Linked DNA regions of Homo sapiens: region 2 is reported to be linked to region 1. The links are microRNA targets in miRTarBase. Many come from high-throughput screens and were not tested one by one. Region 1 holds a microRNA gene; the other region holds the end of a gene's coding sequence.

What was found. Region 1 holds the annotated microRNA hsa-miR-6812-3p (CCGCUCUUCCCCUGACCCCAG, at 2,118-2,138, opposite strand). A microRNA usually pairs through its seed, bases 2 to 8, with sites in the 3' UTR of a target mRNA and lowers its output. Matches are read on the target gene's strand: a 7mer-m8 pairs with bases 2 to 8, a 7mer-A1 pairs with bases 2 to 7 and ends in A, and an 8mer does both.
Region 2: the mRNA of IYD is a reported target of hsa-miR-6812-3p. Seed matches in the 3' UTR shown: 7mer-A1 at 1,997-2,003.

What each region holds. Positions count from the first base shown.
Region 1 is chr20:45,424,288-45,427,690 of GRCh38, reverse strand. MIR6812 (microRNA 6812) reads right to left here and starts at 2,181; the gene lies at 2,118-2,181. PIGT (phosphatidylinositol glycan anchor biosynthesis class T) reads right to left here. Exons shown (of 12, transcript NM_015937.6): 10 at 3,310-3,403; 11 at 3,112-3,195; 12 at 1,450-2,117. The coding sequence ends at 1,865. LOC105372631 (a long non-coding RNA gene) reads right to left here and starts at 269. Exons shown (of 4, transcript NR_159957.1): 1 at 146-269.
Region 2 is chr6:150,397,625-150,401,027 of GRCh38, reverse strand. It overlaps IYD (iodotyrosine deiodinase), which reads right to left. Exons shown (of 5, transcript NM_203395.3): 5 at 1-2,973. The coding sequence ends at 2,791. Among named protein-coding and RNA genes, the nearest start is that of IYD, 30 kb to the right of the region's middle.

The DNA of each region.
Region 1 (3,403 bases):
TGTACCACTGTGTTAAGACTGCTGCACTCACACATGTGGAGCTTCCAGAGTGCCCCTTGCCCATCCCTATCTTGGATCCCAGATCTCAAGCCAGAATAGCCCATACCCAGTTAATACATTTAGCGTTTGCTGATTGAGCACTTACATGTCCTGAGATGGGTCAGGTCTTAATGAAAGACAGAACCTGTGCCTCCAGGAAGCACACCATCTGGTGGAAGTCAAAGGACAGCAGCCAGCTGATAAGGAACACGTGTTAAGTCCAAGGCAATCTGGAAGCAAAGGCGTGGGGCACGGACACGTCAAGGGAAACTTCCCGGAGGCAGCAACTTCTCATCTGGGGTGTGTGTGTGTGTGTGTGTGTTTGAGACAGAGTCTCACTCTGTCACCAGGCTGGAGTACAGTGGCGCAATCTTGGCTCACTGCAACCTCTGCCTCCCAGGTTCAAGCGATTCTCCTGCCTCAGCCTACCGAGTAGCTGGGACTACAGGCGCGCGCCACTATGCCCAGCTAATTTTTTTTTGTATTTTTAGTAGAGACGGGGTTTCACCATGTTGGCCAGGATGGTCTCGATCTCTTGACCTTGTGATCTGCCCACCTTGGCTTCCCAAAGTGCTGGGATTACAGGCATGAGACACCGTGCCCGGCCAGCCTCATCTGGTTTTATGAGGGAACCAGGCAGTTGAGAGGTGTGCATGGTTGGTGGAATAGGGCATTCTAGGCCAAACCACTATGATGGGAGAACTGAGTGGGGTAGGAGGTGGGGGGAACTGCAAATAACACACAGTTGATGCCAAGTGTGCCAGAGGAAAAGACAGAAGATGAGGGCAGTGGGAGGCAACCGCCTAAAGGCTTGTTTTACAGAAATCCAGGGTTATGTAACCAGCAAGGGAGGTGGGCGGGGCGGGCTTCAATCCAATGAGCCTGGCTTCAAAGCCTGGGGGTGGTCTGAGGACAGAGCACAGCAGGAGCTCCTGAGAAGCCTGCTAAAAAGTCAAAGTCTGGGCCACACCCAGACCAACTGAATTAGTAGGATCTGGACCCCAGGAACATACATTATTTTCACAAGTGCCCCCAGTGACTCTGATGCACACTACAGTTAGAGACCCACCACCCAGAGCCCTCCCACCTCTCCACTCTACCCTTGCTGATGTGGACTGACTCTCAATGCCCCCAAGAAGTAGGATGATTCATTTCCATGGCCATGGATTATGCTTTCAGAAACACTCCCAAACAACCCGGGGAGTTCTGGGAATCACAATCAGATGGGGATGGGGAGGACAGGGGGAGCAGATCAGGAGAAGAAATTTCCGGCCAGGTGGGAGGAGGTAGGGTTTTTTGTTTTTTGTGGAGGGGGTTGCAGGCATAGGGTAGGAGGTCCTGTTCAGGCACTCAGCAAACAATCCCCAGTCCCCAGCTCTTCCCAGGACTCAAGGACAAGAGGCAAAGAACCACGGAAACAGCCGTTTTTATTCCACAAACAGTAAACTCCATCCACTACACAGTGACATACACTGTGTAGCACACCCCATCACCTTGGCCAGTGCTGCCAGCCGACCTTTCTGTGGTGATGGAAATCTTTTTCTGTGCTGTCCAATACAGCAGCCACCGACCACTTTTGCTTATTGAGCACCTCAATATAGAGGTGGCCACTACAGGTGAGGAAATGAATTTCTAAGTTAATTCAAATTCAAATGCCACATTTGGCTCGTGGCTCCTGTACTGGACAACACAGCTGTAGGCCCTGACCTGGTCCAGGGCACTTTGGTTCAAAAGCCAACTCTGAGGAGAGCAAGTGGCAGAAACAGCCCTTGGGCTCCCCTCCCCAGAGAGAAACGGCAGCTGCAGCTGCTGGAAAGGGCAAGAATCAGAGTGGGGGGACACCTCGGGCGCGCCGGATAAGGTTGGCCAGCCGCTTGGCCAGGCCACCTGTGCGGGGCTCCTCGATGTGGAAGGTTCGGGTGAGGAGATTGTAGAAGGAGCCATAGCACACGGCCACCACAGTGCACGTGAGGCAGATCACGTTGTAGGGCATGCTGAAGTCCGGTGTCGGCAGGTTCACCAGCAGCGGCTCCGTGTAGAGCCGCACAAAGTAGTTAGAGCCATCAGAGACTGGGAACCTGGGGTCAGGGGAAGAGCGGTGAGACAGGACTGGCTGCTCCTCCCCATCTCACCCCATCCTCATTCCGGCAGTATTGGGCAATGCAACACAGTGTTTCCAATGTTCTCTTAGGCTCAAAACCTTTCAACAGAAGGCATAGCTCAATCTCTAAACCTGATAAAGGGGAGCGGCGGGCGGGGGGCAAGGGGAGGGAGAGCATTAGGACAAATACCTAATGCATGCGGGGCTTAAAACCTAGATGATGGGTTGATGGGTACGGCAAACCACCGTGGCACATATATACCTATGTAACAAACCTGTATGTTCTGCACATGTATCCCAGAACTTAAAGTAAAATAAAAAATAAATAAGAAAGAAAGAAAGAGAAAGAAAGAAAGAAAGAAAGAAAGAAAGAAAGAAAGAAAGAAAGAAAGAAAGAAAGAAAGAAAGAGAAAGAAAGAAAGAGAGAGAAAGGAAAGAAAGAGAGACGCCTGGTGTTGAGGTGGAGGAAAGGGGCCCCGCCTTTGCTTGGTTGCTTCTTTCTTAGCCTGGTTTCAGCCTAAATGCCACCTCCTAAATGAAGCCTTCCTAGATAACCCAGTAAATCAATTCCTACCCAACCTCTAACCCCATTACTCTCTAGACCAGAATCTTCCTTCTAGACTGTAAGCAAAGGGAGGCCAGGGCCAAGTCTGTTTTGTTTAATCTTGCACACTCAGTGCTCTCAGAAGCACTTGGCATTTGATAAGTGCTTGATTAAATATTTAAGAGCATCAAGAAGTAAATGTAGGCTGTAAGTAAAAGTATTCTTCTAGAAGCACTTTAAAATCATTTTATAAAGTCTTCACAAATTCCACAGACTGCCAGGATTTTTATTAGGATTGAATTAAATCTACACATCTCTTTGGAAGATGTAACATCTACCCTGAACTCCCCTGCAGGAGCCTGGTCACCTGTGTTAAGGCCCAGCAGGCAGCTGAGGATGTGTTATCAGTGAGTGTGGTCACACTTACAGGCTGTTGAAGAGGGGACTCTCTTCCCAGTCCACTGGCTTGGCTGCTACCATGCTGGGCACAAGGGCGCTGAGGACAGATGGGCTACAGAGAAGCAGAGAGATGGCCCGTGTTCCCATCTGGCTGCCCTATCAAGGGGTAAGCAGCAGAAAGGGTAGGTCAGGGGGATGAGAGGTGGCCTGTGGGGGTGGAGCCCACCTGACATAGAAGCCATGGTTAGGATCTGGCGTGTACTCGGTCCACTTCAGCAGCGCCCGCTCAAACTGGATGGAAACCTTGGTGACTGAGTTGG
Region 2 (3,403 bases), not on the chromosome of region 1:
TTTTTCCTGGAGTAAGTTGTCAATATGATGCTTCATCTCTCAGTACTTCAGCAGGCATCACTCACATCACTAACAATATCACCTACCACCAGATCCACATTCAACATTCCCAGTTGTCTTTTATACCTATGAGATTTTTCCTAAACCAAAATCCAATCAAGGCTTACGCTTTGCCTTTGGTTGTTGGGTCTCTGGTTATCTGCAACAGAGCTCAGACTTTAACAGGCATGCAGATCACCTGGGCATCTTGTTAAAATGCAGATTTTGATTCTGGATGTCTAGGTGAGGCCTGAGAGTCTTTGATTCTAACAAGCGCCCAGGTGGTCCCAATGATGATACAGGCCCAGGACCACTCTTTGAGTAGCAAGGACAAGACAGTCCCCCTCTTATTCTTCCCACAGTGACACTCACTCCTTAAATAGTCCAGGCCTATTTTTTTGTAGAATGATACACATTTTGGTTATTCCACCATGCCATTAACTTCTTTATCCTCTGTATTTACTGTAAACTGAAAATTAGGTGTAAGACTCGATTAGTTTCCATTGACATCTTTGGAAGGAATACTTCATAATTCATCCCAGCAGGAACACTTAATGTCAGTTATCCTACCATTAATGGTGTGCTAGGACTTTGTCACTTGGTTAAGGTGATGGCCAGATGTTTGCATTATAATTTTTAAAATAAAAATTTGAAGAGTGCCTGCAAAGAGTGAGAACCATGGGGCAATGGCAATCGATAACTCCAATGCTTCAGAAGTAAATAACCTGGCTGCAGATCAGATTGATAACACGAACTACACAGAGAAAAAAATCTTTCAAGTTGGTCTCTGATGGGGTAAGGCTGACTCCCTGCAGGCCAACTCCATCTGGCCCTGCAGCTGCCCCTGAGCCACAGGAGGGCTTCTCTGAAGAGGAGGGAGTCCCTCACCCACCCACGTTACATTTGTTCACCTGAATCCCAAGCAGGGCTGCCTTGCAGTGACAATGGTTTCTACCACAGTAAGGGCCCCCACCATTTATGAATGTTAACCATGTACCGAGCAGCATGCCAAACCCTATGAAGTAGGTGCCATGGACGGAATGTTTGTGTCCCCCGCAATTCATATGTTGAAACCCTAACCCCCAATGTGATGGTATTAGGAGGGGGTCCTTTGGGAGGTGATGAGGTCATAAGGACGGGGCCTCATGATGGGATTAGTACCCTTATAAAAGGCATGCCAGAGGCTCTAACCCTCTTTCTACCACGAGGACACAATAAGAAGTCAGCAGTCTGCAACCCAGATCAGGGTCCTCACCAGCACCTGACCATGAGGGCACCCCGACCTTGGACTTCCAGCCTCCAGAACTGTGAGAAACAAATTTCTGTTGTTTATCAGCCACATACTCTATGGAAATTTTTTATAGAGAGAGTTTTCTCAAGGAAAATGAGGACAAGAAGAAGAAACGCACAGGGAAAGGGGAAAAAGAGGTGAGTAGAGTTGCTTGATGAGAAATCATCCAAGCTGTAAGAGTTTGCCTCTGTAAATATGACACCCCTGGGAGGACGACAGAAGGTGATGGGTGAAGACTACATCTAGCATTCCCAACCTGGCAACTGTGACCCTATCAGTCCCAAACAGCTGTGCTGTCATCTGGAGAATAGGGGTCAGTGTGTTTCAGGGGTTGGGGTAGAAGAGAAGGGAGACACTGTGGGTGCTATGTATGGTAAGCAGCTCTCTTTAAGAAGAAGAAAGCAAGTGCTGATTTGTAGTGGTTGTGATGTAAACTCTCCCACCATGGGCAATTTCAAGCTATGAATGTTTAATAACTGTCTTGCAAGATTCTTGAGTATTGAGCAGCTTCTATGAACTGCTTACAAGTCAGATCTACCAAACCACTAGGCAGTGCAACTGACCGTTTACATGCCAGCCAGGCCCGTGCGACCCAAGGGTACCCTGTCCTGTTCTGTGAAGGTGACATTTTAGTAACTTTGTTTTTGTTTTTTTTGAGACAGGTTCTCGCTCTGTTGCCCAGGCTGGAGTGCAGTGGTGGCATCTCAGCATCTTGACTCACTGCAATCTCTACCTCCCGGATTCAAGCAGTTCTCTTGCCTCAGCCTCCTGAGTAGCTGGAATTACAAGTGCATGCCCAGCTAATTTTTTGTATTTTTAGTAGAGATGGGGTTTCACCATGTTGGCCAGGCTGGTCTCGAACTCTTGAGCTCAGGCAATCTGCCCACCTCGGCCTCCCAAAGTGCTGGGATTACAGGCATGAGCCACTGCGCCTGGCCATGTTTTAGTAACTTTGATGGTTACTTATTCAAAACTAGCAGAGTGTCCCTGAAGTTTGGTAAAAAAAAAAAAGTAGTTCTCAAAAATTAGTGTCTAAAAGCCACCAGAAATCAGAGAACAGGAGACCATTTGATTAATCTAAATTTAAATTCGAGTCATCATGTAGCTGAATTCTTGGGACTATGGTAAATTTCTGATTGTCTCCTCTATGTGAGTTTTTTAAAAATAAAAGAAAAAAGCCAATAGTGATTGTCTAGAATAACTTTTAAAATGTAAAAACCCGGGCATGTTCTTTGTAAAGTGTTCATGCATTTCCAAAGTGGATAAGAAACAGGATTTATGGGACTGGAAGTGCCACAGAGTGTGGAGAGGCTTCTTGACATAGTGTGGCCACCTGAGAAGAGCAATGAGGGGACCTGACACCTGGAGAAAGAGCAGCCAAGAGACCCAAGAGGAGCAGGCGAGAGGCTCAGGGAAAAGCAGGGGCGCCATCTCCCTGCCACTCCCTTGGGGGGCCCTGCCTACACTGTCACCATGATCTGGTCCAGAGGTTTGCGCTTGAGGTCAGGCACCGTGGCCTCCTTGCTGGGGTACCCCACGGGGAGCAGCATCAGCAGCTTTTCATGTGCGGGGCGGCCCAGGAGCACCCTCAGTCGAGGGCCACAGTTGAGAGGAGTGGTAGTGACAGTCACCAGACCTGCATTCTAAAATAAGAGGACAAGAAAGCATTTTAAAGTCAGCAGGCAGAATGACTGCTCTCCCTCTAACCTGGGGACCTTCTTGTCCTGATTATACCTGCTCTTCCTATCATTTCCCTGAAGTTGGGCAGCAAAGAGGCTGCCAGCTCAAGTAATGGCATCGTGAACCTCCCTGCCCCCATCAATCTCCCCACCCCCTCCCTTCTTTTAACCAAGCAGTGGCAAGCTTTTGGAAGAAGAAAAATACTATTATTTTTCATTGATGCTTAAGAAATAGGAATGGTTATTTTACAGAAAAATACTGTAGGAATCCAACTACAGTAGAGGAAAGGCAAAAACAACAGGGAGTTCCTTTTAGCTAAGGGGTTGGTCTGTGTCCTGGTACAAGAACCAAATGATAAGAGAGTCCACCAAAGCAGTGTCCTAGCCCAAATGC